7 linked regions of the Homo sapiens genome follow. The protein of the gene in region 5 purifies or fractionates together with the protein of the main gene of each other region. This does not show direct contact. Each region holds a gene or a part of one and is shown on either strand. Other genes may lie near its edges. The genes, in order: PPP1R10, DNAAF10, PPP1R2, CCDC85C, PPP1R3A, PPP1R9A and KIF18A.

The links.
Region 1: the proteins of PPP1R3A (region 5) and PPP1R10 purify together in Homo sapiens (affinity purification with mass spectrometry, with the first as the bait; one large-scale study listed by BioGRID). This does not show direct contact.
Region 2: the proteins of PPP1R3A (region 5) and DNAAF10 purify together in Homo sapiens (affinity purification with mass spectrometry, with the first as the bait; one large-scale study listed by BioGRID). This does not show direct contact.
Region 3: the proteins of PPP1R3A (region 5) and PPP1R2 purify together in Homo sapiens (affinity purification with mass spectrometry, with the first as the bait; one large-scale study listed by BioGRID). This does not show direct contact.
Region 4: the proteins of PPP1R3A (region 5) and CCDC85C purify together in Homo sapiens (affinity purification with mass spectrometry, with the first as the bait; one large-scale study listed by BioGRID). This does not show direct contact.
Region 6: the proteins of PPP1R3A (region 5) and PPP1R9A purify together in Homo sapiens (affinity purification with mass spectrometry, with the first as the bait; one large-scale study listed by BioGRID). This does not show direct contact.
Region 7: the proteins of PPP1R3A (region 5) and KIF18A purify together in Homo sapiens (affinity purification with mass spectrometry, with the first as the bait; one large-scale study listed by BioGRID). This does not show direct contact.

Annotation. Positions count from the first base shown.
Region 1 is NC_000006.12:30,607,244-30,610,743, forward strand, and holds part of PPP1R10 (serine/threonine-protein phosphatase 1 regulatory subunit 10), read right to left. Parts: intron 2,713-3,500; 5' UTR 2,702-2,712; coding exon 2,595-2,701; intron 1,921-2,594; coding exon 1,834-1,920; intron 1,672-1,833; coding exon 1,536-1,671; intron 649-1,535; coding exon 597-648; intron 1-596.
Region 2 is NC_000002.12:68,140,528-68,144,027, forward strand, and holds part of DNAAF10 (dynein axonemal assembly factor 10), read right to left. Parts: intron 1,269-3,500; coding exon 1,167-1,268; intron 1-1,166. UniProt on the Homo sapiens protein: Key assembly factor specifically required for the stability of axonemal dynein heavy chains in cytoplasm.
Region 3 is NC_000003.12:195,536,826-195,540,325, reverse strand, and holds part of PPP1R2 (protein phosphatase inhibitor 2), read left to right. Parts: intron 1-3,500. UniProt on the Homo sapiens protein: Inhibitor of protein-phosphatase 1.
Region 4 is NC_000014.9:99,594,208-99,597,707, forward strand, and holds part of CCDC85C (coiled-coil domain-containing protein 85C), read right to left. Parts: intron 1-3,500. UniProt on the Homo sapiens protein: May play a role in cell-cell adhesion and epithelium development through its interaction with proteins of the beta-catenin family. May play an important role in cortical development, especially in the maintenance of radial glia.
Region 5 is NC_000007.14:113,912,510-113,916,009, forward strand, and holds part of PPP1R3A (protein phosphatase 1 regulatory subunit 3A), read right to left. Parts: intron 1-3,500. UniProt on the Homo sapiens protein: Seems to act as a glycogen-targeting subunit for PP1. PP1 is essential for cell division, and participates in the regulation of glycogen metabolism, muscle contractility and protein synthesis.
Region 6 is NC_000007.14:95,250,094-95,253,593, forward strand, and holds part of PPP1R9A (neurabin-1), read left to right. Parts: coding exon 1-162; intron 163-1,668; coding exon 1,669-1,765; intron 1,766-1,865; coding exon 1,866-2,037; intron 2,038-3,500. UniProt on the Homo sapiens protein: Binds to actin filaments (F-actin) and shows cross-linking activity. Binds along the sides of the F-actin. May be involved in neurite formation. Inhibits protein phosphatase 1-alpha activity.
Region 7 is NC_000011.10:28,105,357-28,109,542, reverse strand, and holds the start of KIF18A (kinesin-like protein KIF18A), read left to right. Parts: upstream 1-1,386; 5' UTR 1,387-1,479; exon of another isoform or gene 1,480-2,054; intron 2,055-4,186.

The sequences.
Region 1 (3,500 bases), on a different chromosome or scaffold from region 5:
CCAGTTCCTCAAAAACTGACATTTTTTTAAAAAGCTACGTTAGTTGCTTTATGTATAACACACCTAATTGTTACAACAATCTGAAGACTTTTTATTTTCCTTTATAGATGTGAAAACAAGAATAAAATTTGTTTCTAAATATATGAAAAAATACTTTGTAACTCTTTCCTTTTGTACTTGGCAAATAACATCTCTGATCTATGGCACCTCTCTTCTGGCCAACATTTCCACTTATAAACTCATTTCATAATTTATCATTTAGTAATAGGAGTTTCACAGATGAGACACGCTAGGATGATACTATTTCCCACAGCAAATTTTAAGTGTATGTGTTTTATAACAAGCAATTTTAGGAATCAGCTTCCAGTTAAAGTATGGCACCTTATATTCAGCAACAGAGAAATGAACAACTTTGGAATTGAGAACAGGAAAGAGGGTACAGGTTAGAGGAACTTTCTCTTTAAAAGAAGGAAAAAAAGCAAGGTGAGGTAGAAAGAGAAAAGTGAAGGGACAATCCAAGGATGGGAAAAGATATTAAGGTAATTAAGTGGAAGTAATAGAGAAAAGCCCATGAGAGAGCAGAAGTGGCACCCTACCTTCATCCTCACTTGACTTGCTCAGCTGCTTCACCAGTTTAGCTGTGTTGTTCTATGAGAGATGGGAGCAGCAGAAAGGTAAATGCCAGGAGGCAAATAATTCCACTTAGAGCTAAAAACGACAAAAGTTACAGTCCTCCCTGCTTTTTTTTTTTTTTTTATTTTTTGAGACGGAGTCTCACTCTGTTGCCCAGGCTAGAGTGCAGTGGCGCAGTCTTGGCTCACTGCAGCCTCGACCTCCCAGGCTCAAATGATTCTCCCACCTGAGCCTCCTAAATAACTGAGACTACAGGCATGCACCACCACATCTGGGTAAATTTTTTGTATTTTTTGTAGAGACAGAGTTTTATCATTTTTGCCCACGCTGGTCTTGAACTACTGGGCTCAAGCAATCCACCCACCTCAGCATCCCAAAGTGTTGGGATTACAGGTGTGAGCCACCACACCTGGCTGACACATTCCTTTTTTTTTTTTTTTTTTGAGACGAAGTCTCACTCTGTCGCCCAGGCTGGAGTGCAGTGGTGCGATCTCGGCTCACAATAACCTCCACCTCCTGGGTTCAAGCGATTCTCCAGCCTCAGCCTCCTGATTAGCTGGGACTACAGGCGCATGCCACCATGCCTGGCTAATTTTTTGTATTTTTAGTGGAGACGGGGTTTCACCACGTCAGCCAGGATGGTCTCAGTCTCCTGACCTCATGATCCGCCCGCCTCAGCCTCTCAAAGTGCTGGGATCACAGGCGTGAGCCACCGTGCCCAGCCGCCACACACCTATTAAAGGAGATAAATTCAAACCAAGTCTTCTTCTTCTAAATTCCTATTTTTTTTCTGCTGTTCTACCTCACAGGCCCAAGATTACAGCCACATCAGTCAGTTTGAGTTTTTCATCCATTAGACTAAACCAAAAAAGGAAGAATCAGGGTTTAAAGACTAAAGGTACCTGCTTGAGATGGTCTACAGTGAGCGGTAGATGCTGCAGGGTCAGTAGAATTTGCTGGAGGAGGGGAATGTTGTTGGTTGTCTTTGAATACGTCAGCCAATTGTTAAGAAGTTTGTAGCCGCCAACGTCAATAAATCTGCAGGCAGGCAGGAGAGTCTATCAGTAATGCCCTTTCTAGGTTTTGACAGTACCACATCCTACAATCCCAGTCTCCCATCAATGACCGAGGAACCCCATGCCTCACCGCCCCATCTTTTCGCTACACCTTCCCATTCCAACCATCCAGATCCCCACTTACTTGACCAATATTTCTGGTGAACGGGTCTGCAGGAGAATGTTCAAGTAAGTGCATCGACTCACCATCTTTCGTGCTTCCTTCATCAAACTGCAGAAGATGAGTTAGGGTTAGAAATGAAGCAGCCAGTATCTCTTCTCTTAGCAAAAGCGCCTCTCTGTGAACTGCCTAGAGATTCCTAATGACTTGGGACTTTGCTCCAGAGAAGGGGAGTCACATATACCTCTAGGAAGATGGGATGGATCCAGTGTGACATGGAAACTTATGGGAGAACAGAGACACCGCAGTCTCTGACCTGGGGAGGAGAGCATCGCTGCCTCCGTAACACACAGGATGAATTCCATTCTGCCTCCAGGTGATAAGGCTATCCCTCAACAACTGTCCCTAATAGTCTGTTCAAGACTGGCTTAGTTATTTACTCTCCCCTGAAAAACCTGAGAATCCCTGAAGGAAAATAACATTATGGGTAGGTGGAACACGAACCAAAACAATCTAGAATTCTGTTACCAGGCTACCCTGCTCTCATTCCAAAGCATGACTCCCTTGGGACCGTGGACGTCCAAATCTCCAGTTTCCATTATGGTCAGAAACAAGTGATCATCTTTTCCTATCCCTTATCCTAAAATTGTTACATTTTAATCCTATTGCACTGACTATCTTTCCCTTTCCTTTCCAGGATCATTCCAGTGTGCCTCAACTGCAGCCATGTTTTAACACACAATATTCTCTACTCACAGTGAATACAAAAAGGGGTAAAGACTCACCTGAAGATCTTGGAAATCCCATCCACACTTTTGACTTCCCCATCTCGGTTAAGGAAGCTGTCCAGGCCCTTGAGAAGTTCTTTGGGGTCTATGGGACCCGAACCCATGATGGTGGTTTCTATGGTAAGAGGACAAAACAAACAAACCCACAGAATAAATGGGTGGCAAGGACTACCCGAGTAGGCCCTCTAATAAACCACATCTCTATATTTGACAAAGTATAATGACTAATTATTCAACTATGCTATTTTTTAGATATGAAAAATCGACACAGACCACTTGCCACTACTGAGAAAATAGCCCTGGCAAGTTAAGCATGGGGAGCATATGTGACTGAACAGGAAAGCAATTCGATTGGAGGAGTAGGGCAGCACACCTGTCCCTCCCTCCCAGCAGCATCCTTCCTAGGATGGCTGAACTTCACTAGATCGTATTAAAGCTAAGATCAGTTCCCATAACAAGATGTTCAACTCTCCAGGGCATTTACACCTATCGTTAAGTCCTGTCTTCCCTAGTTGCTGATAAATTTGGCTTGAAAAACAGCCTATAGCTTGATAGAAATTGGGCCAATCTTGGGTGTTTGAGCTAAATGTCTTATAAGACTTGAGTCCTTTTTATCTTAGCCCATTAAGAGTCATAATCACTACACATGGCAAGATATGTATCAGCTGAAGTGGTAGATGATGGAGAACAAAACAAAACTTGAAAACAGAATCCCTCCCTAAGGAGATCTGGGAGTAGGTGCCAGAGATTGAGACAAATGGATGCATGGAAATCAAGCAGGTCCTCCTAGACCTTGAATAGACTGTCACTCATTAGCCAAACACTACACAAGTTTTTACTGTCTCTAAGTTAAAAGGAAGCTAGTGGTTTGTGCTTTCAAAAGCAAAGATGCGAATCTGGTCC
Region 2 (3,500 bases), on a different chromosome or scaffold from region 5:
CCTTCTCAGTGCTTGTAACTTAGGTCTTCCCTGGAATACTGCAAAGAGCTCTTGAACTCATATTCTCTGTACCACTCATCACTCCCGCTAAATACCACTAGTTCATTTTCCTAAAGCTCGGATTTCATCTCTTCCTTGCAAACACCATCAAAAACTTAGAACTATCTTCAGGCCGTCCTAACACCTCTGGCCATTGTCCTGAGCCATCTCTAAGGATATTCCTACTATTACTCTCTTCTACCGTTGGCCCTCCCTATCCATGGGTTCTGCATCTATAGGCAACCAACAATGGATCGAAAATATTTGGAAAAAAATTTGCATCTACACTAAAAACGTACAGACTTCTTGTGCTTGTCATTATTCCCTAAACAATACAACAATGACTGACACAGCATTTATATTATATTAGGTATTATAAGTAATCTAGAGATGATTTAAAGTATACGGGAGGATGTGTTAAACCATTCATGAGAACTCCGCCCCCATTAATCACCTCCCACCAGGCCCCACCTCCAACACTGGGGATTACAATTGGACATGAGATTTGGTGGGGACATAGATCCAAACCATATCAAAGGGCAAATGTCAATTAGTCTTCCAAAGTCAATATTCATTTTAAGTAAATTAATGAAGGAATACAGTTATCAAAATTTATAAGAAATAACTTTGTAATGGCAAACTATTTTCTAGAAAATAAACATACTCCGTATATAGCGTAATGTATGATTTGTTAGGTAACTGTTTGCATTTGAGGCTTGGTTTATCCCCATTAATGGTGTCTGACTTTAAATTAGGTCAATATTATCTAGTTAAACAGGAACACATAATAATAAGCACAATTCTCAGCACTTTACATGTAATTAACTCATTGACTCTTCATGACAACACAACTAAGTAAATTCTATTATTAATTCCATTTTATAAATGAAACATCCAAGGAACAGATAACTTTGGTAACTTGCTCCAGGCCACATGGCCAATAAGTAGCAGGTGAGAATTCAAACTCAGGCCCCAGAGGCTGACATTAACCACCACGTGTATTTGCCTCAGTAAACTATTAGAATAATCCACAAAACAGACCATAAAGAGACTACTGTGAAATTTCTTGCAGCATCGTGCTTTTTACCATCTGATAATTCAAATGCAAGAATTCTTCAATAATTTACCAAATGCCACAGTCCAACAGTCTCTCTTGTTTTCTCCTTGTACAGGTTCCATATTAGCAACAGGATCATCTTTTTGCCTTGGGTCCCACACCTTCACAGTTCCTGCCATGCATAAAAGTGAGTTGGCAAAAATTCAAAAGTAAATGATTATGTTTCTTTTCTACATTCTTCTTCTATGGCTTCCTGTGTACATGGCAATATGACAGATGTTATGACATCTGAAAATATCCACATTGTTCTGACTTCTAATTGGGTAAGTTGTATTTAATATCAGAGATATCACCCATATGTAACTATCTGACTTGGTTTCCAAATTAATAGACACACAGAAAAGCCAACAAGTGTTCCTAAGTTATCTACGAGTGATGACTGACAAGGCAAATGTGAATGTTACGTAATTCAAATCATGAGCCTAAAATGAATGTGTTATTTTTTAGGGAAAATACCAGTGTTGTTTTAATTTTTACTTTTTTCCTTATTACCCATTTTAACCATTGGCATGAATACACTCTAATTTTGAATTAATGGTTTCTTATGTGAGTTCTAGAATACTATTTCTTTTTCTTTCTTTCTTTCTTTTGTTTTGAGATGGAGTCTCACTCTGTCGCCCAGGAATGCAATGGCGTGATCTTGGCTCACTGCAACCTCCGCCTCCTGGGTTTAAGCGATTCTCCGTCCTCAGCCTCCCAAGTAGCTGGGACTACAGGCATGCACCACCACGCCCAGCTAAATTTTGTACTTTTTTAGTAGAAATGGGGTATTGCCATGTTGGCCAGGCTGGTCTCAAACTCCTGACCTCAGGTGATCCACCTGCCTGGGCTTCCCAAAGTGCTGGGATTACCGGCGTGAGCCACTGTGCCTGGCCTAGAATACTATTTCATATACAGTTAAGTTTAATTTTCCTGTGGCAATAGTGAAGAGGAAAATGTTAAATAAAATTAACAAATTCTCAATTTAATTTCAACCCCCTTGTTTTAATTCATGTTATGGGACTACTTACTAAAATAGTGTCACTACCTACAAAAAATGCAAATGCATGTAATAAAATGGCTAAAAGGCAAGTACCTGAGAATAAGAAAAGGGCAAAAAAAAAAAAATCCTTAAAAGGAAAACAACTCAGGAAAGGTGGAGGTACAACATTAGATTTATCTCCAGGGATAAAATAAAGTTGATCATTAAAAGGCTGCTTTACTTTAATATTTATTTATTTAGAGACAGGGTCTTGCTCTGTCACCCAGGATGGAGTGCAGTCGTGCGATCATGGTTCACTGTAGCCTTGACCTCCTGGGTCCAAGTGATCCTCCTACCTCAGCCTCCCAAGTAGCTGGGACTATACCACCATGCCTGGCTAATTTTTAGTTTTTGTAAAGATGGGGTCTCCCTATGTTGCCCAAGCTGGTTTCAAGTGATCTTCCCACCTCAGCCTCCCAAGTGCTGGGATTACAGAGATGAGCCACTGCACCCACCAAAAGCCTGTTTTAAAAAGAAAAAAAAAATCCCAGATATAGAGATAAGAGATTATCTTTCTCTATAGGATTCATACAAATTGATAAGATCTCAGCCCACTTCAACCTCCCACTGCCAGGTTCAAGCAAAACTTGTGTCTCAGCCTCCTGAGTAGCTGTGATTACAGGTGTGTGCCACCACACCTGGCTAATTTTTGTATTTTAGAAGAGACAGGGTTTCGCTATGTTGCCCAGGCTGGTCTCAAACTCCTGGTCTCAAGTTATCCGCCCGCCTCAGCCCCCAAAGTTGTGGGATTATAGGCGTGACTGTACCTGGCCCAATAAATTTTTTAAAAAATCATAAAATATATTTATTCCAAAAGAGTTACACATATGACAATACTCATTTACTCATTATTTTTAAGCCACTCTCATAAGACAACAAATAAAAAAAGCAAACCAAAGGCTTATAAGGGAATGGTTAAGTACGGCCATATGATGGAATATTATATAGTCATTAAAATGATAACTGTGGAAACAGCAACATTTGCATATGACAAAACATTAAATAAAAAAAGTTTCTAAGATACAAATTCATATTCACACTTATAACTATGCAAAATTATATATAAGACCTAAAAGGAAAAGAAAAATCTAATGGTTGTGGTAGTGTGGTAGACTGAATGTTATTTTTCCCTCTATACTCAATATTGCTTTTATGATTAAAAAAAATAAGTGATTTCTAAAACACAGCTGCTCTTGAGTACCCACTAGAAAATTATATCTCACTTTTCCTTTAAAGCAATTTCCTCATGGTCTTGAGCGGCCATTAAACAACTAGCCAAATCAATTATAATAGGTACCAAATTTCTCATGTACCCCTCGTGAA
Region 3 (3,500 bases), on a different chromosome or scaffold from region 5:
CTAAATAGGCCACGAAAAGGACACTTGTTTACAGTACAAGAGCTGAAACAAGAAAGCAGAGCGTCGCCTTGTTTGACCCCATCTGGGAACATGCTACCTCGGCTGTGAACGGTGCACTGGGCAACTCAGAATCTGCCCTGCTCTGTGGCTGTCTGTGAGCAACTGCTAACGGACCTCAAATGCTAGTTTTGGGATTACACATTTTAGCAAGTAGGTAAACTTGCAAAGAAAGAATCAGAGAATAATGAGAATGAACCCTACCTTTTATAGGTGTCTTCGTTGTGTAAAATGCGATGATAGTTTGACTCCTACCCATCCCCCAGTTGTGAGAGGATGTTATTTTACGTAAATATTACCAAGGAATTTTTAAAAATAGAATTCAAACATACTTCAGATATATGTCTGTAATTCATATATGGATGTACTACTATCATTAGATAATTCTCAAAACTCAATGTCCACTTAAAGTGAGGTTTATATAAAGCCATATTCAGATAGTCTAGCATTTCTATTTTTTTATCCAATTGTCAGGACCGATCAAACCATCATTGAGGGGGGTTTTATTTTTTTAGATGACTCAGTGCTGTTATTTTCTTATTGTTTATACTTTGCATTAGTGCTTACGTCTTTTTTTGTTTATTTTTGAGACAAGATCTCATTCTGCCACCTGGGCTGGAGTACGGTGGCACGATCACAGCGCACTGCAGCCTCCATCTCCTGCTCTCAAATGATTGTCCCACCTCAGGCCACCACACCCAGCTAATTTTTGTATTTTTTGTAGAGATGGGGTTTTAGTATATTGCTCAGGCTGGTCTCAAACTCCTGGGCTCAAGTGATCTGCCTGCCTCCCAGAGTGCTGGGATTACAGGTGAGAGCCACCATGCCCCACCAGTACTTATGTCTTTAATGAGTGGTTTCTACAGGTACCATTTGTCAGATACCAATTTTTGAGGGTTAAATTAAAACTGGATAGAATCCATAAATCCACATAACTAAGTATAGATAAATCTCAGTACATTGCACCACAGCATTCAGCTGTTTTAAACACCACTGTCATCTTCGATCATTGTGGACTTCCCATTCTTTCAGGATACCTTGAATATAGGGCACAACTTATGAAGGTCTAATTTAGCAGGCCTAGTGAGTACATATGTGTATCTTAATGAAAAGAAGACACTGTTGATTCTAAGATGTACTATCCAGGAAGAAAAAATACTGCCAGCTATGATTATAAGATGCCATCCTTTTAAGACATGTTCTTTTTCAGAGATGTGAAAATGTAAAAAATGTGTTTTGGGAATTATTGAAAATATGACAGTAAATATTGCTAAAGCCTATCATTTGAGAAGGATTATAGTTTAGTGGTTAATCTGGTGCCAGATTGCCTGGGTTTGAATCTTGTCTGCTGCTTATTAGCAAACTTTATTAGTTGTGATTTTCAGTGAATTATTCATTATATCTGTGCCTTAGTTTAAATATTAAATGAATTAATAAATGTAAAGTGCTTAACCCAGTGCCTTACCCTCAAATGTTAGTCTTATTGTAATAGAAATAAATATAGAAATTCATTTTTTCCATATCTCAGCGGGGTTTTTACACAGTCTGCTTTGGAGTTCACTATTCTGTTCAATTCAAATTCTATAGTAGTCTTAGATAATGCAGGCAAATTCTGCTTGAAAAAATTATGCCTTAATTTCCTTTGATGTAATTTAAGATATAAACAAGCTTCAACTTTGTCTTTTTCTGCCTATAAAGGGATGTGGAATATTATAGTCAGAGGTTTACTGAGTAAAATAAAAATTTGTTTTCTAAAAGTTACTTTTTGCTTACTTGTAATTGCTTTTATTGTTAAGTCTTACTTTAATTGTTCAGTAACGATATCAGGCTTCGAAGTCTTATATTGTGTCAATCTATATAAGTTGAATCTTCATTTAAAGAAAGAACCATTTCTTGAAATGTGCAATTAAAGTTAAATCACCTTGAAGCAAAATCTTGCTTCCCATTCCAGACACAGTCACAACTTATCAAATGAGCAAGTCACAAGCAACAAGAAGTTCCAGTAGGTCTTCTTAAGGTGGCACCATATGAGCTAACAAAGTAAAAGTGAGAAGCGGTGACGTTTTCAGCACCAGATTTAGGCTGTAGGAAAACCAGTCACCCAAGAGGGTGGGGGAAAACTGAAACCAGCAGGTGCTTTCACCATCATGGCAGATCTGCCATGTAAATGGTGGTGCCCCTATTTTTGTCTGCAGGGATACTGACCTCAAAGGAGGTCATACAGTTCATGATGGTACTGGGATTAAGCTCAGGCTCACTCCTTGGGTTTTGCTATTCCACAACTAATGTTAATTCTGCCATCACTTTAGAGATGCCGACTTTCATATCCAGTGTCCCCTGCTGACAGTTTCTTCTACTTCACTAACTTTCGAAGATTTCCTAGCATTTTTGGAGTCTGTTTTGTAATACCGTTATTTAAATGCTTGTTTTTGCAAGCTATTGTTGTCTTTTTTTGGATCTGAATAATTGTACTAATTTTTTTTTCTGTTAGTGTTCTGTTGAGAAAACAAGTTGAGTGAGACTTTGAATATTTAGAACTTAAAATTTCATTTACAGAAGAAAGTAAACTAAATGGCAAACAAACTGGGAAAAATTGAAGTTATATAAAATGTGGTTTATATAAATCTAAAGAGCTCAAATTTATGGGAAGATTTCTGATAGGCAAAGGATGTAAACATAATTCACATGAGGAAATTAGGCAAAGAAACAACAGTTTTAAAATACTGTTTTATACCTGCTGAAATGGAAACACACACACACACACACACACACACACACACACACACAATAGCTAATCCTAGCAATGGTTTGGTAATTTACTGGGGACGTTACAAACAGTCCTCTTTTTTTAAAAAAAAATCTGTATGGCAACATGGAGTGAACTATAAAGTTCTTAATAAACTTTAATTCAGACTCTTACACTAGCAAATTTTCTTTAAAACAGCATTGAATAGCATATATACAAATATGTTCATGTCTGCCTTATTTTAAATAGGAAAACTTATTTAGGTTATCAATCTAAATGAATCTTATACAGTCATTAAGAAGGTAAAAAAACACAAGCAACTTATACTACATATACTTAAAACTTATATATCAGCATATGTATTGTATATATACTGTATGTACTGTTTTATATGTATAGTTATATATATTTTTATGTTTTGATAGCTTATACATATTTATATGTATTATACAAAGGGAAGAATATGCTGAAATCAAAATTATGAATGGCTTAGGGTGCTGGGATTGTGTTTATTAAATTTTATTTTTAATTTCAAGAAAACTTAATTTCTGCTTGTGTTCTGTAGTTCTTTTTCTTCAATCCTTATCTTGCAAAAAATATTTACAGGATGTGGCGTTCTTTCTTTCCCATTAGAGATACTTTTTAAACTCCAGAGGTCTTTCCTCATTCTTTTTTTTATCCTAAGCAACGATGATCA
Region 4 (3,500 bases), on a different chromosome or scaffold from region 5:
CAGGACAGCAAGCAGAGGAACCTCGAGTCCAGGAACATGCAGCCTTGTCCCCAGCAAACCTGCACCAGGAATTGAAGCTCAGTGTTCTCCTCTTGCACTAAACCCCTTACTGAGTCCTTTAAGCAGAGGCAATCAGATAGGGGAGGCAGGTACTTCCACTGGGGCCCTGCAGGAGGGGAGGCTGGTCTGGGCCAGGGTCTCAGCCTCAAACAGCGTTTAGACAGGTCACCATCTCTAGGCCCCACAGTGGGACCCATGTGGTCACAGGTAGCCTCACCATCCCCACACCTGCCCCAAGGCAAGGACCAACCACGAGGCAGGTGATAAAACCCAGGCTGTAGGGCATAGGAAGAGAATTCCCAGGAATATAAAAGAGCTGGCTCATAGGACCACTGAGTGACCGATAGGAGGCAGGATGGGCAGGGGAGGCCACCCCTTCCTTGTGGCTCTGAGTCAAAGGGCCAGAAGAGATGAGGGTCCCTGGGACTCTCAGCTCAGCCCATCCAAGCTTCCTATTTTACAGATGGGAAAATGAGGGCCCAGGGAGAGGCACAGACTTACACATGGTTGGGTCTCAAGTGGGCTGAAGCCACTGGTTCTGTCTGGATCGTCCAATCCACAGAACACTAGTAATCTTCCAAGACCCCCAGGCAGGGAGCATGTCAGCTGACAAGGCCACTCAGGCCCAGCAGGTGATGTGTCTGCATATTTATCAGGTGGGGAGCAGGGGAAAGATGGGGATAAGCTGTAAAAAGTTTCCAGTTTCTAATAGGACTTCTAACAGGTAACTCTGGGTCCTCTTGGAAAGTCCATCAGAAAAGGTTAGAGCTAGAACTGCCCACACCCCGAAGGAAAGCCCAACCTAGGGACTTCAGGGACAGTAGAAGAGGCTTCAAAGACCCCACCGGCCCTGGCCTTGCTCACTGCCCCAGTGCTTGTCCTGGGTCCCCACTCATCCATCACCCCAGCTGAACCCAAGGTGCAGGCAAATGCCCACCGCATGACTTTGCTCGGCTCTTCTTTTTGTTTTGGTTTCGTTTGGTTTTGGTTTTGGTTTGTTTTGTTTTGAGATGAGTCTTGCTCTGTGGCCCAGGCTGGAGTGCAGTGGCGCGATGGCTCACTGCAACCTCTGCCTCCTGGGTTCAAGAGATTCTCCTGCCTACCAAATAGCTGGCATTACAGGCGCGTGCCACCACACCTGGTTAATTTTTGTATTTTTAGTAGAGATGGGGTTTCACTATGTTGGCTAGGCTGGTCTTGAACTCCTGACCTCAGGTGATCCGCCCAGCTCAGCTGTTCTTTCTGCGAAGCCTGGTCTCTCTTCTTACCTGCTCTCTTCTGCTTTTACTAACTCCATCTTCAAGGCCCATCTCAGTTCCCAATTCGGCCACCCCTCCTCTGAGCTCCCAGCACACCTGAAGAGGTTAAGAGCCCAACCTGGGCATTTCCTTGAGGGAAAGGGGCATGATGAATAATCACACCCACAGGGCAAGGGAACCGGGACATACCGGCTGGCACAGGCTCCGGGTTCAACTGGACGGGAGTCCCTGACCTGGCCCAGCCCCACCCTGCCCCTGCTGTAACTTGCCTCACCATCCTGGGCCTGTTCCTTAGATGAAACAGGGACCCCAATGGGGACCAGCAACTGTTGTGGGAGGCGAGTGAGAGAAAACCCAGTTGCTGTCAGCACAGTGCCAGGCACACGTTTGTTCCATCCAAAAGACTTTCAGAACCTGCCACTCTGTGCCAAGGCTGGGAGTCAAGAGGACCAGAGTCCCAGGCTCATAAACTCCCAGATGAAGAGACAGTAATGACAGAGGGCCCCAGGTGGGCAGGGAGGGCTCCAGCACCCATGTGGCTGGCCCTGGGGTGGGCCCCTGTCTTTCTCAAGTCTCTTAGTGCCTTAGGACTCTGTGAAGTTTGCTCAGGGGTTTCCGGCTCTCCCGGGCCTGGCATTTGTTCCACTCTCAGATACCATCAGCCGCAGACACAGTCTACTCAAGGGCTTTTCCAGGGGCAGAGAGGGGAAGACCTGCCAGCAAATGTCCACATGGGTTCTAAGACACGCCCCATATTACAACTGGGAAGGGAAAATGCCCAGCTTTGAACTGAGGAAATGGCAGAATGTCTCTGCCGTTGAGGAATCAGGAAGAAGGAAAGGGAATCAGACCCTCGCTTCCTCCCCAGGGCCATCTACTGTAGTTAAACATGCTCCACGCCTCTGTTTGAACAGTACACATAAGGCAAACCCAAGAACACTTACAGGCAGTCAATACAATCCTGATCTTTCTGCTCTGCTCCCCTCAAGAGCTGGAGGTCAGCGGTGACCTGCTGAAGAACAGGCACCCATCCCCGGCTGACCCGGCTCCAGGCCTGCCCAGAACCCTCTGCCTGTGAGGACAGGGGATGTATGAGTGTCCAATCCTGGGTGCTTGCCTAGGGGAGGGGGACCATTTCTGACATGTTATGATCAAAGAAGCATCAAGTCCCTTTAGCAGACAAGTTTGTTCCTCTATCCCCAAGCCTTTGGGGATGCCAATAGAGTCTCTTGTTGTTATGTAGCAGGGAGATGAGAATTCTGAACCCCAGAGTGGTCCCTGCCTAGATCCCAGACGCTGATCCCAACCACCCTAGATGTAGGGATGGGAGTAGCGGGGAGCAGCATCAGCGCTGGGGATGGAGGGCACAGCAGCCACCTGGGAGCGGCAGCATCTCCCACAGGCGCTGTCCTGCCTGAGCCCCACCCAAGAGCTCAGGACGCCTGCCCTAGAGGACAGAGGTCATGAGAAGGCAGATAGCAGCTGAGAGCAGGACTTTGGAGCAGACTCACCAGGTCTGGAACCTACAGAAGGCTCTCTCCTGTGGCCACTCTCCTGGCCAGAACCTCCTCCCGATGGAAGCCCTCAGCTTCCACCCACTGCTCCCCCAGCCCAGCCCACACCACAGTGGTCACCAGAGTGATGCTCCAGAACCACCACCCCCCAAGCCAGACTCCAAGAATCACTGCTCAGGAGGCACTCAGACCTCAGAGGCAGTAAATGCTCAGTGAAGTCCGCAGACGCTTCCCTTCCTCCTGAAGAGCAAATTACCACCTGTGAGGTCAAGTCCCGCTTCCCACCTGGCTCTGGGTTCAACCAGATTGGATTGAACACACACATTCAAAGCTGGGCATTTTCCCTTCCCAGTTGTAATGTGGGGCGTGTCTTAGAACCCACATCTCAACCAGATTCCCAGAGCTGTCTGGGGTGTCCACAAGCCCCATCCTCAGTGGATTCAGGAATGCCCCTTCTCAGTGTCCACGCAACCTCCCCTGACACAGCGCTCCCCAGCCCTGGAGGCAACACAGGCCACCTGGGCCACTCTTGCTTGTGGGCACTGAAGTCTGAAAAGCTGGGACTTTGGGGTCTGCCCTGTGGGGCTGCCCACAGCACTAACCCCCCTAAGAGTTATCTCCCCACACACATCCTGGGTCCACCTTGCAGGCCCCGGATTCTCAATGC
Region 5 (3,500 bases):
TTTGATAGGGCCCTGGGCAATCGGATCCACTTCAGATATCTGCCCTTGAGGTCTTTTCCCCTGCATTATTTCCTGTTGAGGGGTAGGGGTAAAAACCTGGAATAGGGATGAGAGTCACAGTTAGCAGAAGTGGAGGAAGGTGAAAAACTAAGTTGACCCACTTCATAACGGTGCCATCTTTTTCTTCTTCCTTTTTTCTTTTCTTTTCTTTTTTTGCCAGGAGCATTTTTGGCTCAGAAATAGTGGGCTCTGCTTTATTTTTACAGGCTGCAGATGGGCTTCAGGTGGGGAGGGATAGGCTCTCAGAGATCCCAGAGGATCCATTTGAGGCATGGCATTCATAGTGACTCCTTTCAGCCACAGCATGAGAGACACCCTGAAGGAGGATACCCTTTTGTTCCTCTTCTCTCAGAAAAGTTTCAAAATCACTCTAGGGAAAGTCTAGGATGGGGTATGGATTTCCACAAAACCAGGAAACCATGAAGCCTTGGTGGACCTCCAAGGAAACTTGAAGCCAGTTGGCACCTCGCTGTCAACCAGCTGGCTGCTTTCAAACACCCTCCTGATGGGCCCTGCACAGCTGTGTTTTATGTTTCCACGTGGCCTTGCCAGAGGTCCCTCCTTAAACAGACCCAGCTTCCACAATTAGTGTGGACTCAAAACGAGTTAGTTATGGCATACGTGAGGTCCCAAAGGCCTCGTGGGGCTATTTACACCTCTTTGGACTATTTCCAGGACCCCAGATTATACTGTATGCGTAAATTAAGGAAGTCTCACAATCCAACAGCTCTGACTGAAACACACAATGTAGCCATATCTTAGACCCCATTTCCCAATGCTTTTCTTGGCCTCATTTTCACAATTTTACCACCCTGAAAGATAAACCCTCTGTATTCTTAAAATTATGTTTTAGAAAGGAGTTCTCTCTTTCCTGTTCCTGAACGTACCTGGTTTTTTTCCTACAGTACAAAAATTGAGGACTAATCAATTTTCTCCTTTGGCATTAAAGTCATTTAGGACTTTATTTGCATTCACCTGGCCAAGTTATAAATACCATCAAACACCTATATCATGCAGTTTCTTTACTTAAAATAATAAATTGGTTTCACTTAATAAAATACAAAACCAGATGAACTCAACCGGTGTACCCAGCCATTAGGAACATACATTTAGCAGGCAGTGGGGAAAAAAAGCCAAGATGCTGAGAAGGGAGACCACCCCCCAGGCCAGTAAGTACACAGTGTCAGCTCTAGGTCACATATTCTAGAAAACCTCAAGTGGAAATAATTCTTATTTCATTTTTTATCTATGGCTTCTACTGTATACCCAGAGAATCTGAACTTGGTTTTGGTGTTTTCTCTCTTCCCTTCATTTCTCTCTGCTTTTCAAGGCCTTTTCCCTTGGGGCCTCTTCTTGTCTTCACAGGCGCCTGTCTCCAGCCACATTTCTCAGTTATCGATACTGCTGCCTAACAACTCAGAACCTGACATACAGTTCTTTAGTAAACATTTGTTGAATAAGTTTTGGAGCCTGAAACAAGGAAACCTATGATGTATGGAGAAATAATGCAAGTTCAAGAGTCAGGACATTAGCTGAACAAGATTTGATAATAAAAGGGACAATTGTGATGAAGGGCTTTTGATGATATCCTCATGTGTGTCTAACATGCTATATTAAAAGCTTTAAGTATATAAACTTATTTTAATCAATGTGACACTAGACATCATGACCCTTATTTGACAGGTGAATAAACTGAGGCTTTGAGCTCTGAAGTAATATGCCCACAGCCACATAGCTACTAAGTGTAAACTTTACTGAAATTAATATGCATGTCTGTTCAATCCTAAATGAATGCCTTTTTATCCCTTTTGGTCTAGTTCTTCATTTTTTCATCTATTAAATGTGGAAATTTTAACATTCCTAAGTTCTCTTCCAGCTTTAAGATAATTCATATATAAAGTGACACATTTCTCAAGAAAATTTACAGTTCAGTTAGTCTTCCTTGTTGATTAAAATCTTGCAAGAGACAAAGGAATGGCTCTCCAAAGCTGAAAATTTAGAAGCCCTGAAATGAAAGAGGAGAAGAACTTTGGTGCAGCTTGAGCCTTGCAGTTTTTCAGATACACCTAAAGCTGAAGTTACCATTGTCTTTTTACAGCAGTTAACATTTACTGATAACTTATTATGTTCCAGACACTGTGCTAAAAGTTTATATGTATTACTTCACCGAAATCTCAACCCCTATGAGATAGAGCTGTAGTTGTTCTCAATTAACATACCAGAAAAACAAGCTTAACTTGCCCAAGTTCATATTGCTAGCATGTAGGAGAGCTTGGATTCAAACTCAGATATCTTTAACTTTGAAGCCTAAAATCCTAACTTTGAGGTTATATTGTTTTGCATGCCATTTTAGCTTATTTGTCTATGTACATTTAATGTGATTTATATCAATGTCATTTTTGTCATTGATTTTAAAATAAAACCCATCAGATATATCAGGAATCTGCTTAGTTTGCTAGCATATGTGGTGATACTTAAGTATCTCATGATGCATGCCTTTCGGTGCAATTAAATATCTTTGGGTCACTCTCAATCACATGCCTATGAGTTACAAGCTCTGCCTCCCCTTCTCTCTACATATTTCTTTCTGTCCAAAGTGTACAGACTATCAGGCATCAAAAGAAAATAGACAACCCACACCAATGTGGAGATTTGCAAACTCTTAACATGAGAAAAATCTCCATAGAGAAAACATAATGCCTGGGTGGGTGATTGACTTAACAGAAATCCTACCTAAATGTATTTCCACATTCATTCATTCCATACTTATTAGAAGGGATTATTGACACTTTCAGAAGATACAATCTCAGGCACCCTGATAGCAAATTAACTTTTTTATTAAGAAGAATTGAAGTTAGCTGTTATTCTCTACACTAGGGCAGCCTGATTTTCATTTTAGCTATGACTGATATTACATACTATTACTAATCTATTTGCAGGTATAAAGAAAAAATCATATATATATATGTATGTATATGTATATACATATATACATATACATATATACATACATATACATACATATATACATATACATATATATACACATACATATATATACATATATATATTCTGTTTTTACCTTCTGAAAGAAATAACCTCCAAATTAAGCTACATAGGAAGTGTAGAAATGCTCAGAAATGACCCATTTAGATTCTGTAACTATTTGGAGAGAAGAGATTTTAGTAGCTATAATTTTTGATCAAATAAGTATTAGTTCATTTTTATTTTAGTCAAGTACACATTTTGTAAAATAACACCGATAAGGTGTGCTATTTTTCTCTAACCAAACTCTTCACAATAAAATCCAACTGCAATATTCATTTAGAAATTTGATAATGCTCTCTTGTGTGAGTTTTAGGAATATTTGAAACCCCATTGCATATAAATTATATCATGGAAAAGCTGTATAAATATTCTATTATGGCACATGCTGTTCT
Region 6 (3,500 bases), about 19 Mb from region 5:
AGAGAATAAGGAAAGAATGTTGAAGTTGGAAAGCTACTGGATTGAGGCCCAAACATTATGCCACACAGTGAATGAGCATCTCAAAGAGACTCAAAGCCAGTATCAGGCCTTGGAAAAGAAATACAACAAGGCAAAGAAGTTGATCAAGGATTTTCAACAAAAGTAAGCCGCTTCTAATAACTAAAGAATAGTTATGTTTGTCTAAAGAAGGTTTATGTCCAATAATTTTGTAATATCTAGTGGAACAGAAAAGATGACCTTAGAGATATCTTTCCTATCCAGGAGCATAGTTACAGCATAAATACACATTAAGTTTTGGAAGTCACTTCTATCACTTTTTCATGAGATTATGTTTTGTATATTTTATAGTTTTTGGCTGCCAGGGCCTCTTTGCTATTTTTGATAATTAATCGTTGTTTATAACTGTTAAAACATCTGAATTTCTTTATTCTTTTTGAAACACCTCTATGATTTAGAAACAAGAAGCCCAGCGGAAAGTCATGTAGAATGACTGACTATTGGATGTGGAGCACGCAAGCCACAGCTGGGGCCTGAATCAGGCTGCTCCTCTCTATTCTTAGATCAGTAACTACAGAATTTCCCACTACAGACAGTGCACATATCGACTAGCAAGGCCCCCTGCCCTGCCACTCTGCATTTCTCAGCTGTTGAGAGAATCAGGAGGGCCTCCTTTCACTGCAGGGAGAGAGACCATTACCACATTCTGCTTTTGATTTTCAACAGCTGTTTCTGAGCTACTGCTCCTTTGCTTCCATCTCTTGGATCTCGGTGTAATGTCACGGAGACTGACCACGGAGATTTTTACTAGATTTTTTTCATCAGTTACTTCTGGCTAGTTAGAACAAATAAGTAGTACCAGTACCTTTTCTGGTCTTCCATGCCAAGCCTCAGAAGCTAAGCATATATGTAAGATTAACCATATTTCTTTTATTTCCTATTATGTGGAAGAATGTTTTTAATATTTAAAAGAGTTTTGCTATCAAAAGTTTCTTGTTAAAAGGGGAGTAATTATTCTCTGTGACTATAAATTCAATACATCACTGTTTTAACTATTTGCCAAACTCTTTTTCATGAAATAATTTTATAGTAAATTTTGCTAAATTTGCATATTCTATTCCAGGTTTTCAAAATGGAACTGTTTCTCTTCTCCCCATATTATCCTTAGGTCTATAAGTGAGTGCCCCTCTCGATGTTTCTGACCCACCCAGCCCCCTCTTCACTGTTATTCATAGAAATCTTACAATTATCTTTTTCGAACTCTTATCTAGTTACATCAGTTTACTATACTATGCTTATGACATTGGAAAAATGGAATTATTTCTACCTGACAAGTAATTATCTCCACTAAATTACCCAATGTGGGTCATTAGTGCAGTCTTTCCTATCTAAATATGTATGGGTGTTCTAGAATCAGGAGCTACGAAAGAAAATTATAGTAAGCAGAATCGAATCATTTTTCTTTGCCTTGTGACCCATTAAAGATGTTTTAGTTTCTTTCATTACTATACTTTTTCCTCTAACTGATTGAATGTTGTCCATTTAAATAACTGTTCAGTTGCTTATCCTACTATGCAGTTTATTGTTTCAGATAAGAACTTTCATTTATTGAGTGTATGATATAATCAGAACTATTATTTTCTTCTTAAGAGAGCTTGATTTCATCAAAAGACAGGAAGCAGAAAGAAAGAAAATAGAAGATTTGGAAAAAGCTCATCTTGTGGAAGTGCAAGGCCTCCAAGTGCGGGTAAGTTGTGTTCCCTAAGACACTAAATAATAAGATGGTTTTGCTGTACTTGGAGGGGAGCGCTAGTTTAGAGTTTTATAAATGGATTTGTTTTTCCTAGATTAGAGATTTGGAAGCTGAGGTATTCAGGCTACTGAAGCAAAATGGGACTCAAGTTAACAATAATAACAACATCTTTGAGAGAAGAACATCTCTTGGTGAAGTCTCTAAAGGGGATACCATGGAGAACTTGGATGGCAAGCAGACATCTTGCCAAGATGGCCTAAGTCAAGGTTTGTTTAACCCAACCACAAAAATCATTTTTGATGACTGTGTAATTTGGCCTTTTATTTTTCTTTTTCTGACCCAGAGATTTAAAAGTTGGAAATACCTTCCTACTATGGGAAAGAAGAAAAGGCTTATCAAAATAGGAGTCAATCATTTTAGCTCTCGTCTTATCAAAAATAAATACTTTAATATGTAGCATTAACAAATCACAACTAAAGATAAGCCAAATACTATTTTAAAATCATCATACAATTGACAGATTTAATAAACTGCCTTACAAATTGTAGTTCATCCTATCTAGGATGAACTACACTACTTATGTGTTAATGACTAAGGTTTAGATTTTTTTTTTTTTTTTTTTTTTGAGAGTCTCACTCTGTCATCCAGGCTGGAGTACAGTGGTGCAATCTCAGCTCACTACAACCTTCGCCTCCCAGGTTCAAGCGATTCTCATGCCTCAGCCTCCCCAGTAGCTGTGACTATAGGCATGTGCTACCACGTCTGGCTAATTTTTGTATTTTTAGTAGAGGTGGGCTTTTGCCTTGTTGGCCAGGCTGGTCTCGAACTCCTGACCTCAGGTGATCCACCTGCCTTGGCTTCCTAGAGTGCTAGGATTACAGGCATGAGCCACCGCGCCCAGCCAAGCTTTAGAATGTTTAAGTCACTAGAATAAAGATCTTTTTCATAATATCAGAAGGCAGACTGCTGCTTTCAGCACTTGAGATTCATGTAGTTAACGAAGTCCATATAGTTTTGTGCTTTTACCATGGTGTACTGTGTATACTTCTTAGGTCTTTCATGTCAAAGACCAAGTAAGACCAAAACACTGGAAACATTTGGTATTATAAATGATTATCTTCATTCATACACCAACCATAAATAAATTACTTATGTTCTTACACACACAACATTCTTAGATTGCACGTGTATGAACATGAATGACTGTTTTAATATCTGTGGTATATTTGCAAATTAGAAAACACATAATAATTATAAAGATAAATACACAGGAATGTGTGGCTTCATCTTTTTAAATATATACATAGTAGTCCCTGGAAAATGAAAATAAAAGAATGTGGTGCAGCAGGGTTGTCATGACAGGACCGACAACTCAGAGGCAACACTTTGACGTGCAGTAAAACCCTGTTATAATGGGCTTTTTAGTTTTTTCGTGATCTTTCTCACATATTAAACTGTCTCCAGTGAAGTTTTCCTGATAAGCAAGTGTTTATATCCTATCATGAACTTTTAGAACTAAGCTCTTAGCCATTAAAAATGGAAAGGATTAGAAATCTTCATTTAAAATTAAAATGATATCTAGAGATTTGAATCCATTCACTGGGTTTATATCCTTCTAATGGGTTTTCCCTAAATAGGATGTAATTTATAAATAGTGCCTCTTAGGCAGCTGAAAGAGGAGGATTTAGCATTAGCATTACGACTAAGTGAGGAGCTGTGTGACTTCAGG
Region 7 (4,186 bases), on a different chromosome or scaffold from region 5:
GACAAAATTTTGTGTTAGGAATTTTCTGAAAACTTCAGTTTTCTCTCAGAAAAATGAAAATAATATTACCTACGTCTCATGGGCTGTTTTGAGAATTAACTGAGAGACCATATGTAAAGGGACTAATAAAATACCTGGGAAGTCAAAACGTAAAGTACTATACAATGAGTTCTTACTGGAAATAAAGACATCTCGATTTTATTACCAAGACCAGCAGCACACAAATAACCATTTCATTAGCTAAGATACACGTAATACAGCCAAAAATAAGTAGTAGCTTTATTGATCCTCTGTCTAGTGATCAGAAACAATAATATAACATGCATCACATACAGTACACAATACTCCCGATTTTCCTCAACAGGAAATAAATGTCCATAATACAGAGGTTTCCATATATTGTTGCATTTATAATACTCTGCATGGGTATGAGTCATCCTATTTATAAAGTGATATTGAATCCACAAAATATAAGCTCCAAGAGGGAAGAGTTTGATTCCATTGCATACTATTGTGTCTAAAATCTAAATAATTGCTAAATGGATACAATAACAGTAATATATAGAACAATGAAATTCAGATACTGTTATTAAAAACACCCTGCCAAATAAAGTTATTTTAGCAAACGTATTTCCGATTTGTTCCAGGTATTTTCTCTCTTTTTAAAGTGTCTATGCTGAAATAATATCTATAACCTGGGACTTAAAAAAAATCACTTCACCTAATAATAAACCAAGCCAAAATCTTTAAATTTATTTTGTTATGCCATCATTAGACAGAGAATGTAAAAAGTAACCAAACAGAAAATAGTTTCACGGTCAGTACTAATGGGAGTAGGCCTGGAAGTCCTGAGAAATGAAGCCTGAGGCCTCAACCCAAAAGATCTCCAATTAATTCAGGTGAAGAGACCCCACATTTTGGCCCATATTAATGTGTCTGGAAGAAACAGGTCCCTACAACTTCTTGGAGGCCTCACTACTCAGAGAAAAGAAAATAAACACCCAGAACCCATTAATCCACACCCAAACTCCACCTCTCCCCCTAGCAGAGGGCATAGGCCAACCCCTGCCCGCAGCAGTCTCACTCACACCCTTAACTCTGGGACCGGGCCCTGCACCCGCCGGTCTACAGGAGGCCTGGTGATCTCAAGTGGCTGCCTCCCACCAGCAGCTCCGGCCTAGCCCCGCCCACTTTGGCCACCGCCTCCGGAAACGGCCGCGCGCGTTGCCACGGTGACGAGCAAGCAAAGAGCTTCCCCTGCGCAGCCAGGCTGAGCTTCTTGGCGCCAAGCTGCCGCGAGCCGTGACAGCGTCCGACGTGATGACATCACGCGAGCGGCAGCCAATGAAACGAAGCGCTGAGGAAAGTGGCTTGGGTTTGAATATTGTGGTTGAGTCTGAAGCGCTGGGAGGCGGACATTAAAGTGAAGTGGTTGCGGTAACCTGGCCTGGGCCTGAAGTGAGTGAGAGGCACATGAAGGTAAAACTGGACTCTGGGACGCTCCTTTTGGTGACTTGTATTATTGGGAACGGAGGGTCCTGCCGCTTCAGGTCTAGAAGACCAGGTGGGCTTCTTGACAAACACAGAAGCGTTGAGGGGTGGGGGATCAGGGTACCTGGGGAGAAAGTGAAAGGAAAAAGGGATTCGAGAACCTGCTAAGAGCACAGCTCTGCTTGACCGTAATCCTCGACTGCTCAGCTGGAAGGGCAGGGATCTCCTTAAGTCCTGAGAGGAAGTCTTAAGTTTTAAAGGGCATCTTGGCCCCTTTCCCAGACTGGCAGAGAACTTTAACTGCCCAGCACCTTGTAGTGTCAGCTTTTTTCCGGACTCCAAATTGGGAGTGTTTTGTTTCAGACTCACATATAAGCGTACCCAGGGGCTTACCTATCAAACGAGGAGCTTTTGTTCATCACTGCATAAAATTTTTGTCTGAAGAGCTTTAACTGTTAGTCTTGCACTGGTCAATCGGGAACCCCTCCTGAGCCCCAGTTGTAGGTAGCATCGAGATAAAAGCCGCTCTGACTGCCTAACGGGATTGCCGAGGATCAGATGAGGTACGGAAGAGATACTGTTTGGCAAATGCTCTGCAGATGAAATTAAACTGTAAACATTTAGAATCAGTCCTATAGTCTGTTCTTGGTTTCCGCAGGACTTTTTTTTTTTTTTAGGAGCTCATTAGTCACTCAGTTACAGAGAAGCCAAGACTGACTGCTGTTTATTATATGAGAAGAGAGTATTTGACCAGAATGAACTGATTTTGTGGTATAATATATAGTTTAGATTATGGATAATTAGGTAGAAATTTAGGCACTCTACAGATTTTAATTTTTAGTGTCATTCCACCACGTCTAGCCTCCTGTTTCGTTTTTGTAAGGTTTTTATAAACTTTGATGCTAGAGAATGTGATATCCAATGACTAGATAGTGCTTCTTATTAAGTTCATAGTTTGTAAGAACTATTTCAATAAACAAAGATTATCTACAAAGCACAATCACAAAGAAAAAAACTTAAAAGATTATCTGCCTTTAATAGTAGTAATTAATCTCCTTTTCTATTATTTATTCATTTATTTGAGACAGAGTCTCGCTCTGTGGTCCAAGCTGGAGTGCAGTGACGTGATCGCTGCTCACTGCAACCTCCACCTCCCAGGTTCAAGCAATTCTCGTGCCTCAGCCTCCCGAGTAGCTGGGATTACAGGCGTTTGCCACCACACTCGGCTAATTTTTGTATCTTTGGTAGAGACGGGGATTCACTGTGTTGGCCAGGCTGGTCTCGAACTCCTGACCTCAAGCCATCTGCCCGCCTCGGCCTCCTAAAGTGCAGGAATTACAGGTGTGAGGCAGGGCACCCAGCCCTTCCTCTTCTACTATTGAAAAGTATTTACAAATACATAATATTTTTATATTGAAAGTGCATCTTGTCCCATCATAGAAATACCCCAAATCAATTAAGAGACACGATAAAAATGATTTTTTTTTTTTTTTTTTTTTTGCTGACAACTGTGAAAACTAAGAGGAAAAAAAATAGCTCAGCTGTCAGTGCCGGCCTTCCCTCCAGTTGAACCTTTTATTCTTCCCTGATGGTTGTAAGTTGGTGGGAGTAGTGCCCCCAAGACTGATATTCCAAAAAGAGCTTTAAGATGGACTGTAGATGATAGTGTTGAGTATCGTTTTCAGTCCTATACAGTGTTTGTTGAATCTGAATCTAATTCAGGTTTGAGTTTGTATTTAATATATCATAACTGTCACTCTACTTCTGTATCATTGTTTGGAAGCATTCTCTTCTGATTCCAGTAGAACCTAGCTGTTAATAACATGGACTTTAGATTTGTACCCGTTAAGGAGTTTGTGTTTTATTCTTCTGGTGAGAAGTCATTGGAGACTTTAGAGCAGGTGAATGCCATGTGATGCATCACATGATCTGAATGCTTTTGATGAACGTATCAGTGAATACAATCAATGAATTAAATTTATTATAGTACTTTCATAAAATTAGGGGTGAATCTTTGACTGAATTGACTTATATTTGACATTTGGTTGCCCACTTGTTACGTCATCTTGGAAAAGTTACTTATCCTAAGGCTAAGTCTTTGTTTTTGTAAAATGGAAATACTACTACAACCTACCTTACGTGATTATTATAAGGATTGAATGCAATGACGAATGTCAAGTGTTTACTATAATGCATGAGACAGAGTGTACATACTCAAATGAAAAGCATTGTTGTTCATTATTAATAATTATCACCATATCAACCTAATCTAAGCATTGTTAAAGCATACTTATTGAGAATGGCCACTCTGTGATATCTGACAAGTACAGAGAAATCATAATCAGTTTTATTTTCACATTCAAGAGCTCCTGTGCCAGGCCCTGAGGTTTCTATCAAAAGTAAGGAAATATAAGAGAGTGGTACCAGAAGCTGAGTTTTGGGGGAAATAGGGAGATTTTGGTCAAAGGGTACACTTTAAGTTATAAGATAAATAAGTTCATGGCATTTAATGTACAGCATCAATGGTGATAGACGTATTAATTTAATTGTGGTAATCATTCCATTGTGTATAAGAATATGAGACCATCACATTGTACATCTTCGTTTTATACAATCTTTGCCAATTAAATGTTTTAAAATTTCTAAAAAAGTAAGCAATATATATATTTTTAACTTCTATAAGAAAATTTCTGAG